3 separate regions of the Homo sapiens genome follow, and regions 2 and 3 are each reported to be linked to region 1. The links are microRNA targets in miRTarBase. Many come from high-throughput screens and were not tested one by one. Region 1 holds a microRNA gene; each other region holds the end of a gene's coding sequence.

Region 1 (3,152 bases):
ATATCTTTATGAGTAGTATTGAGGACCTGGTACATATGCCTTTTTCTCTCTTACTCGTACTTTCATTCCAAAGTCCAATGTTTTATCGGTGTTTTAAGACAAGCAAAGGACTGACTATCCTCATTCCCTTGCATCTCTTTTACCTAAAAATGAACATATGGTAATTAGACTCAATGACTGTTGGCTGGATGTCTATGTAGGTGTAACTACAGTGAACAACATGGAACACATTAACAAGTACCAGGCATACTTGACTTCATTGAAAAGTTGACTTCTAGCTAGGGAGACAAAACAATATGCATGAAAGAGACATTAAATCACCATTAAATCATTTTAACAGAAAACTTTAAAAGCGTATTACACACTCCCATGACTTCTAAAAAAGAATATTCTAAATGTAATTGGGCTTTTTTTGGGGGGAGTGCTTTTTTTGCAGCTCATTGTTAATATCTAAGTAATGAATTGTATTTTTTTTTCTTTAGATGGAGTCTCACTCTGTCGCTCAGGCTGGAGTGCAGTGGCACGATCTAGGCTTACTGCAACCTCCACCTCCCAGGTCCAAGTGATTCTCTTGCCTCAGATTCCTGGGTAGCTGGAACTACAGGCGCCCACCACCACGCCCGGCTAATTTTTTGTATTTTTAGTAGAGACGGGGGTTTCACTATGTTAGCCAGGATGGTCTCGATCTCCTGACCTAGTGATCTGCCCACCTTGGCCTCCCAAAGTGCTGGGATTACAGGCATGAGCCACTGCGCCCAGCCTATGAATTGTACTTTTTTAAAAAAAAATTATACTTTAAGTTCTGGGGTACATGTGCAGAACATGCAGGTTTTTACATAGCTATACACGTGCCATGGTGGTTTGTTGCACCCATCAACTGGTCATCTACATTAGGTATTTCTCCTAATGCTACCCTTCTCCTAGCCCCCTACCCCCGAGAGGTGCTGTTGTGTGATGGTCCCCTCCCTGTGCCCATGTGTTCTCATTGTTCAACTGCCATTTATGAGTGAAAACATGTCGTGTTTGGTTTTCTGTTCTTGTGTTAGTTTGCTGAGAATGGTGGTTTCCAGCTTTATCCATGTCCCTGCAAAGGACATGAACTCATCCTTTTTTTATGGCTGCATAGTATTTCATGGTAAATTGTATTTTAATGCTAAGATTCCTTCAGGAACTCTCAGGCACATAGAGCTGTCTGGTCCTAAGCAGCTCTGAAGAAAGCAAGCCAAGAAAGCAACTTTGCTTTGTAAAGTTCTGTTTTTCCCTTTCACCTGCTCTTAGTGTCTTCTGAATCACTTTTATGAACTGTTTGATCTTCAGACTGGACATTTCCATGGTTTTCCCTAGATGTCTTCTTGTCATAAAATTCCACAAGACATTCAATCCCTAGCCATTGATTTCTTTCTCTCTTTCACTCACAGGATCATACATTGTTTCAGTGGGCAATGAATGAATCCAGTGGAGCCTTGTCTTACACATCAGATGAAACGGCTGGCTGGTTTAGGGGCCACAGAGATTGAAAATTTGTTTTAAGCATTAGAATCACTCTAAGCACTCTACGATACACATGAGCACAGGCACATGAGAGCAGAGGCAAAGAAGAGCAGATTCAAATCTTCCATGTCACACTCATTCCAGACATATACTAATTAAGTAGAATTGAGGGCATATTCGTACTGTATTTAGAATTTTTCATTTCCTTTTTGTTTTTGGACAAATGGATAGAGTTGAACAAGTTGAATGTTTCAGTGAGCCCACTGTACCTACCACATAAAAGGCAGTGTGTTAGGTTCAAGGCATTCACTGATTTTTTTCTTTTTTTTTTTTGAGACAGGGTCTTGCTCTGTCACTATCACTCAAGCTGCAGAGCAGAGGCGTGATCATGGCTCACTGCAGCCATGGCCTCCCAGGCTCAAGTGATCCCACCTCAGCCTCCAGAGTAGCTGGGACCACAGACCTGCATCACCACACCCAGCTAATTTTTGTATTTTTTGTAGAGACAGGGTTTCACCATGTTACCCAGGCTGATCTCAAACTCCTGGGCTCAAGCAATCCTTCTGTTTCAACCTCCCAGAGTGCTGGGATTACAGCACCTGGCCGATTTTTCACTAAAAGAACATAATCTCTAACAATGTCTATTTTCAAATATGCTTAACATCACAGATTGTTAAGAGCTGGAAGAAGGAAATGAAGATAAGATGTGGACCCTGTCCTTAAAGAGCTTAGAATCAAGTAAGAAAGATTAAACATGTACAGAATTAACTATAATAAAAGGAAGTCTGTGATAAATACCATGACCCAAGTACAAAGTACTATGTTATTTCAGAGAAGGGTGGCCTTAAAACTAACTGGCAATTGGAGGAAAAGGCATCCAGGCAGAGGGAATGGCAAATTACCTAGCAACTCATTCATTATTCTTCATGCTCTACTAATTCATCTTCTTTTTTTTTTTTTGAGACAGAGTCTTGCTCTGTCCCCCAGGCTGGAGTGCAGTGGTGCGATCTCAGCTCACTGCAACCTCCGCCTCCTGCGTTCAAGCAATTCTCCTGCCTCAGCCTCCTGAGTAACTATGATTACAGGCATGTGCCACCACGCCTGGCTAATTTTTCTATTTTTAGTAGAGATAGGGTTTCACTATGTTGGCCAGGCTGATCTTGAACTCCTGACCTTGTGATCTGCCCAACTCGGCCTCCCAAAGTGCTGGGATTACAGGCATGAGCCACCGCGCCCAACTCAACTTCTTTTTTAATTAATAAAAGGATCACTCACTCACTGGCTTCATATTTTATGCTCTTTGAATATATATAGTTGACTGCAGTAAAGTATACTCACTACATATTATTACTTCCTTTTTTAAAAAAACCAGTTCCTATTATGAGTCAGGGTTCTCCGTGAAATCATTTTTTTTTTTTTTAATGTTCTAGCAGGACTTTTTCTTTCTAACCCAGTGTTTCATCCTCCTTTGGCTACTACCTGTTTGCACTGCTGATCCCAAATGCCAAGCACAGTGCTAAGTACAGAAAAAGATCCAGACCTTGTCCTTTTGAATTTCATCCTTCCTTGGTTGCTTATCTGCTAAGAAAACATGACACAAACACATTTCCCCACATTTAGGATGTCAAAGCAGGCGGGAATACTACAGGCAGCATTGCAGA
Region 2 (3,000 bases), not on the chromosome of region 1:
AAAGAACAATTATATTTATATAGTTTCAGGTTTTATTTTCATAATTATCTTCCTATAGAAGCAATAATCTGTATTTCCATAACAACACATTTAATATTCTACTCATCAGAGTTGGGAAAAATAGGAATAAAGCAGATTCCATACAGAAATACCGTACTCTGCATATGTACAAATAAATTCAATATATTAAATCTATTTTGTAGCTGGACTTCACTTACAATGTAACAGAACATTGAATATTAGATTCTGAGCATATTCATGCAAACTTCCACTTTGGTGAAAGTGATGACAGTGGAGTTCTGGAAGACAATTTTCCTTGTAAACACCAAGTTTTGCACTTTGGACTATGCTCTCAAGATAGAAACTTACGTGAGTGGAAAAAGAAAATGTATAAATGTGAAACAAATATTCCTTACCACACAGAATAACCCTGACAACAAACAATATCCCCAAGTCCTGGTTATTCAATCCTCACCGTGGGCAGGAAGGGTGAAGGAGGCTGCACCTGGACACAGCCTTTTGTGTGGTTTAAAGCATAGCTGCGCTGCTGCTACAGAATGCACTTCATCATCACCTTTTTTAAAAAAAGTTTTCAGTACATAAGAAGAGTAAAATTAAAAAATTTTTTCCCCCAGACTTTAATGGGTAATATGATCTATCTATACATAAATAGTCTACAGTATCTTTAAAGTATTGCCAAATCTGTTTAAACAGATTACTAATTAGCTCAAATGAGCATTAATGTAAGACTCCAGAAGTTTCCGATTGGATCTAAAGGATACAAGCTGCAATGATGGGATCTTTGAAACACTGCAATGTCCTTAAATGCAAATGTCTACATATAGCTTGTTCATAGTTAATCCCAATATCATTAATAAAAATGAGGTGCTACCTGAAGAACTATGCCAATAAATTAAGGAAGAAAAACATTAAATTTATTAGCATTTTGTATCAGACTTACAATAAAGACTGTATACCAACATCCACGCACCCGAGACCACCTCCCAAAGGAGGATGTTATTCTAAGCTCTCCCGCAGAACTGTGACTAAAATCACTTCTGATACTCCACCTTAGTGTTTTCAGGAAGTCTAGCAAAATTAAGCAACCTATACTCAAATAAGGTATGACTCTAAAAGAGACAGAGACAGGGCATGGATGAGCAGGAATTACTTTGGCAGCGTGTACCTGCAGAACGCACACTGCTGGTGTCTGTAGCCTCTTTCCAATTAACAGATTACGAGATGGGTCTAAGCCACACAACAGGGTGAAAAAGGAATGTTTCGAAAACAGCATTTTAGGAAATAACTATAAAGGATCAATATATTGGCAGTGCGGTGTTTTAAATATTGTCTTTCTAAAACAATTCTTCCCTTTCAGCTAAGTTTTCATAGTATATAGCATTTTCCATGTCAAGTTATGACGGAGTTACAATCAAAATAAAATAAACAATCAAAATAAACTGTTTTGGAGGGAAGAAATATATCTGTATTAGACTGATGGAAACATTACCTCATTCTTACAATGTTAGAAAGATATTCATAGGCTGGGTGAGGTGGCTTATGTCTACAATCCCAGCACTTTGGGAGGCCAAGGCAGGCAGATGGCTTGAGCTTAGGAGTTTGAGAACAGCCTGTGCAACATGGAGCAACTCCATCTCAACAAAAAAAATAAAAAAAAAATTACAAATTAAAAATAAAAACATTAGCCTGGGAGCCGTGATTGTGCCACTGCACTCCAGCCTGGGCAAAAGAGTGAGACCCTTAAAAAAAAAAACAAAAAACAAAACAAACAAACAAACAAACAAAAAGGTATTCATTACCCATTAGCTCCTATTTGGTCAAGAACCAAGTAGATTTGAAGACAGTCACTGTATGTATTTTTTAGATAGAAGAAATACCCACACTTCAGAGAGGACTGAAGATATTTATAGATCACTTCAATATGCTACCTTCAAAATTTTTCAAACTCATAATATATAAGAGCTTCAATGCATCTTTTATTGGGCTAAATAATATTGTAAGGCTCAAAATAACTTCCTGTCCCCATCTCATCTCTGAAAAGACTTAATAATTTAAATGTATCTAACATCATGGGGGATAAATTTACTTTTCAAAACAAAAAAATTTTAAAATGATTTATCAGTAAACATCACCTTTAGCAGCAATTATTAAATGAAACGTAAAAAACAATTCACTAACAGTAACTTACAAGTGTCCAAGAGAGAATACCTATGCTTATTACCCCTTTTGTTTAGAACATAATTTATGTATAATTTGGCTTGCAAATTTTTTAATCAATGTATTAAAACATGACAGTACATTTTCTGTTAATTCCTGCTGGTGTCTTAGAAAAGCTCTTATGGAAAGAAAAAGATATGCTTCACAGGTAATGGATACAATGAGTGATTTGGGAAGATGGTAACTAAAAACTAGTCTTTATTAGGATCCAAAATCATGACTGTAATGAAGTACGGATATCCCTAATCTATTCCCAAGTCCTTGAAATGGCATGTCAGGATTTTACCTTTGTTTCCCTTTTCTTTTCAGCAAGCAAAATACTAGCATAGTCCTCCTGAGTATTCATCTTCCTCTTCATCAGCAGCCGTGGCAGTGACACCATCAGGCTTGGCCTGTGGTGTTGCAGGTGATTTCTTCTTGATTCCCCCTCCTGGAACCACCAAACTCAGGCCCAGCTTAGCATACTGTCAACAACAGAACATGTTCTTAAAAGCTGGATAACTAGAATCCTAACATGTTTTACTCAGCTCTAAAAAGACACAGCCTGGCTCCCCACCCTCAGGAACACCAATTCTACCATTCAGATGGAAAAACAAAGCCCAACAATGCTGCTCCCCAGATGCCTCATGACCATGGTGGGACAGGTACACAACTAGTAAAAGTTTCAATTATAAATTTTTTTTAATTAAAACTTTAGAAATATATATATTTTCAAAACCTATGTAAGACGTTATTTAGAAAAAAAATTATCTACATATATCA
Region 3 (3,000 bases), not on the chromosome of region 1:
AAAATACAAAAATTAGCCAGGTGTGGTTTCAGGTGCCTGTAATCCCAGCTACTTGGGAGGCTGAGGCAGGAGAATCTCTTGAACCTGGGAGGCAGAGGTTGCAATGAGCCAAGATCACGCCACTGCGCTCCAGCCTGAGCCAACAGAGTGAGACTCCAACTCAAAAAAAAAAAAAAAGAATAGGGAGTTTATCGTTAGTATCTTATGGCAGACTGCAAATATTCATATTTAAACTTAGGTTAAAGTTCATAGCAATAATGATAATATGACGGTTTTTTATTTTGTTAACTCTATTATTAATATCCTCCCTACCCTTCTTTTTCCCTGACAGTCGGATATGTTGCGGTCACTATCTAACACAAAACCTACAGTCAATGAACATGACTTGTTGAAATTAAAGAAGTTTACAGAAGATTTTGGTCAAGAAGGCTAAGCCAAAGACAAGGAAGATGCTTACCATATGTATTCTTTCTTTCATAGATATTTTTGTCTATTTGGATCGCATTAATTGTTTCCAGTAAAACTCTTTTACCACAGGGAAATACACATCTCACTTCAGAGTTCCATTAGGTTTTATATTGTACTTTTCCTCCATTACTTATTAAATACTCCTATTAACAAAAGGTACAAAATAACAGGTTATGAGGAAATGAGCGATATATGAACGGCATAAAAACAGAAATTACCCAGTAAAAAGGATGTCAGAAATTGACATACAAATATTTACAATTTTTATGAATGGTGGTCTTTGCAAAGAGCATTTATATTTTCTTTTTTTTTTACTAAAATGATATAGGGTTTATTTTATATTTTCAAAAAAATTGTTAAACATCATTCTTATCAATGTAAAATTTACGTTATTAAAAAATTACAAATGATAGAATCTTTACTCAGGGATGGGCAATAAAACAGCAAAGAGCTTTGTGATTGGGTTTGAAAGATTTTGAATTATAGACAGTGCTCTTAATAGTTTTTAATAAGTTGATATTTTTTTCTGTGTAGATTTAAATAATTTCTTTAAAAGCGTAAGCTTTGGCTGGGCATGGTGGCTTATGCCTGTAATCCCAGCACTTTGGGAGGCTACGATGGGTGGATCACCTGAGGTCAGGAGTTCAAGACCAGTCTGGCCAACATGGTGAAATGCCGTCTCTACTAAAAATACAAAAATTAGCTGGGCATGATGGCGAGTGTCTGTAATCCCAGCTACTCAGGAGGCTGAGGCGGGAGAATCACTTGAACCTGGGAGGCAGAGGTTGCAGTGAGCTGAGATCGCGCTACTGCATTCCAGCCTGGGCGCCGAGATAGCGCCATTGCACTCCAGCCTGGGCGACTGAATAAAACTCTGTCTCAAAAAAAAACAAAAACGGTAAGCTTTTATATTTAATTAACTGATACCTTTCACTGTGCAATCTCAAGAGGAAGATTTTCTAAATTAGACATTGTCTTTACCTTAAAGAAGAAAATTGTCTATTTCAGTGTCTTTTTTAGCAAGATTGACCAAAACAGGTGGTAGGTGTGTAATTTTTAACTGTCATGAAATACTGTAATGCGCACCTTTGCTAATAAGGAAATGGTCTCCCTTTGAATTATGGGAAGTTTCTTGTCTGTGATATGGGGTGTCTGTGTACATATATGTATATTTCCTTTTTTAATACAGGATAATAATATGGGGTCTTGTCCTTCACCTTTTAAGTTCAGGGAACAGTTTGTCCTGACCACACATATGTTATCAGTGTAATGCTTTATGAAGCTTTAGAAATGAGCTCATGACTCATTAAAAAATAATAAACGATGCTATTTTAATATTTTCAAATAAATAATCTGAGGATGTGTTTCATACTTTAGCATCAACGCTGAGTTGTGCCTTGTAGAATTGCATTGTCTATACATGCAAAAGACTATTAAGTTAGGATGAACTAGATTCCCTAATTACAGTGAAATTCTATCTTGCAAATGCTATAGAATAACTTGCATTTTAAAGTGTATTTGCACATTTTACATATGCTATGTGGTTGCCTTTGGGTTTTCTGTACAGATTGTTTTTGTTATTAAATGGAAAAGGCCTGAATTATGCTCTTATGTGAAGTAAATTGATATAACCTATTGACTGTATTCTGTGTATTATTCTTTATTTTGGGACCTTCTGTGTAAAAGAAAATATTACCTAAATTGGTTAGATACAAAGAAATCATTAAAATTATTAATGTATATATGAAAATTCTGTTTTTCAATGACTTTTATGTGAGGATTGAGAACTAACTTAGTAAACTAACACTGAATTCTTTGTGGATAAGATAATTTATACATCTTACCTGTTTATCAGCCTCAGAATTATACAGTACTGCTGTGTGTTCTTTATGGACAGATACTCAAAGGAATCCGAATGGGCATGTTCTATTTCTCTGGCTCTTGACCAGTAATTATAAAGTTTAGGTAGACATTTTCTGAGCCAGCAAGTAGATCATAGTTGTTAAGCATCTCTATGACTTACACCCTGGATATTTGAAAGCATTTTGTCTCACCCTGAGAAATCTATAAGGACTCTATAATTATAAAACATGTCAATAGAGAATTGACTTCTGAGTCCACTGTCAACTACATGCAGAAAAACAGAATGAGTGTACTTGATTAGTGCCACAGAAGCACCATTTAGCCACTTTCAGAGTTGATAAAGAGGCATACCTACCTGATGGTGCTGTATGTTGCAAGTGAAGCAACACAGTGCCCATTGTTGACACTAATGTTATTTTAAGTTTGTGAGTTTTCACAGGTGCCCTTTTCTTTCCTACTTTCATCCCTTCATTTGTATCCTCCTCTTATTTTAATATGGTATCTTTCTTTTTTTTGCTAGTCCACATCACGTATTTCCATTAAAACCTAATGATGATGAACCATGTAACCTCTTGCAGGAAGACCACCCAAACTACCCCCACCCTACTTTTGGGTTTCTTTAGCAGTTAAATTGCTGCTGCTGCTGTGTTAAGATTTTTCTCTGGAGCA

Evidence for each region. Region 1 holds the annotated microRNA hsa-miR-5094 (AAUCAGUGAAUGCCUUGAACCU, at 1,785-1,806, opposite strand). A microRNA usually pairs through its seed, bases 2 to 8, with sites in the 3' UTR of a target mRNA and lowers its output. Matches are read on the target gene's strand: a 7mer-m8 pairs with bases 2 to 8, a 7mer-A1 pairs with bases 2 to 7 and ends in A, and an 8mer does both.
Region 2: the mRNA of NAPG is a reported target of hsa-miR-5094. Seed matches in the 3' UTR shown: 7mer-A1 at 2,138-2,144.
Region 3: miRTarBase lists VPS4B as a target of hsa-miR-5094. Seed matches in the 3' UTR shown: 7mer-A1 at 1,388-1,394.

What each region holds. Positions count from the first base shown.
Region 1 is chr15:89,848,906-89,852,057 of GRCh38, forward strand. MIR5094 (microRNA 5094) reads right to left here and starts at 1,816; the gene lies at 1,732-1,816. All of the region lies in intron 8 of ARPIN-AP3S2 (ARPIN-AP3S2 readthrough), which reads right to left. All of the region lies in intron 4 of AP3S2 (adaptor related protein complex 3 subunit sigma 2), which reads right to left. RefSeq lists enhancers at 1-500, 2,812-2,861.
Region 2 is chr18:10,549,779-10,552,778 of GRCh38, reverse strand. It overlaps NAPG (NSF attachment protein gamma), which reads right to left. Exons shown (of 12, transcript NM_003826.3): 12 at 15-2,702. The coding sequence ends at 2,559. Among named protein-coding and RNA genes, the nearest start is that of NAPG, 25 kb to the right of the region's middle.
Region 3 is chr18:63,388,408-63,391,407 of GRCh38, reverse strand. It overlaps VPS4B (vacuolar protein sorting 4 homolog B), which reads left to right. Exons shown (of 11, transcript NM_004869.4): 11 at 332-2,218. The coding sequence ends at 433. Among named protein-coding and RNA genes, the nearest start is that of KDSR-DT, 23 kb to the right of the region's middle.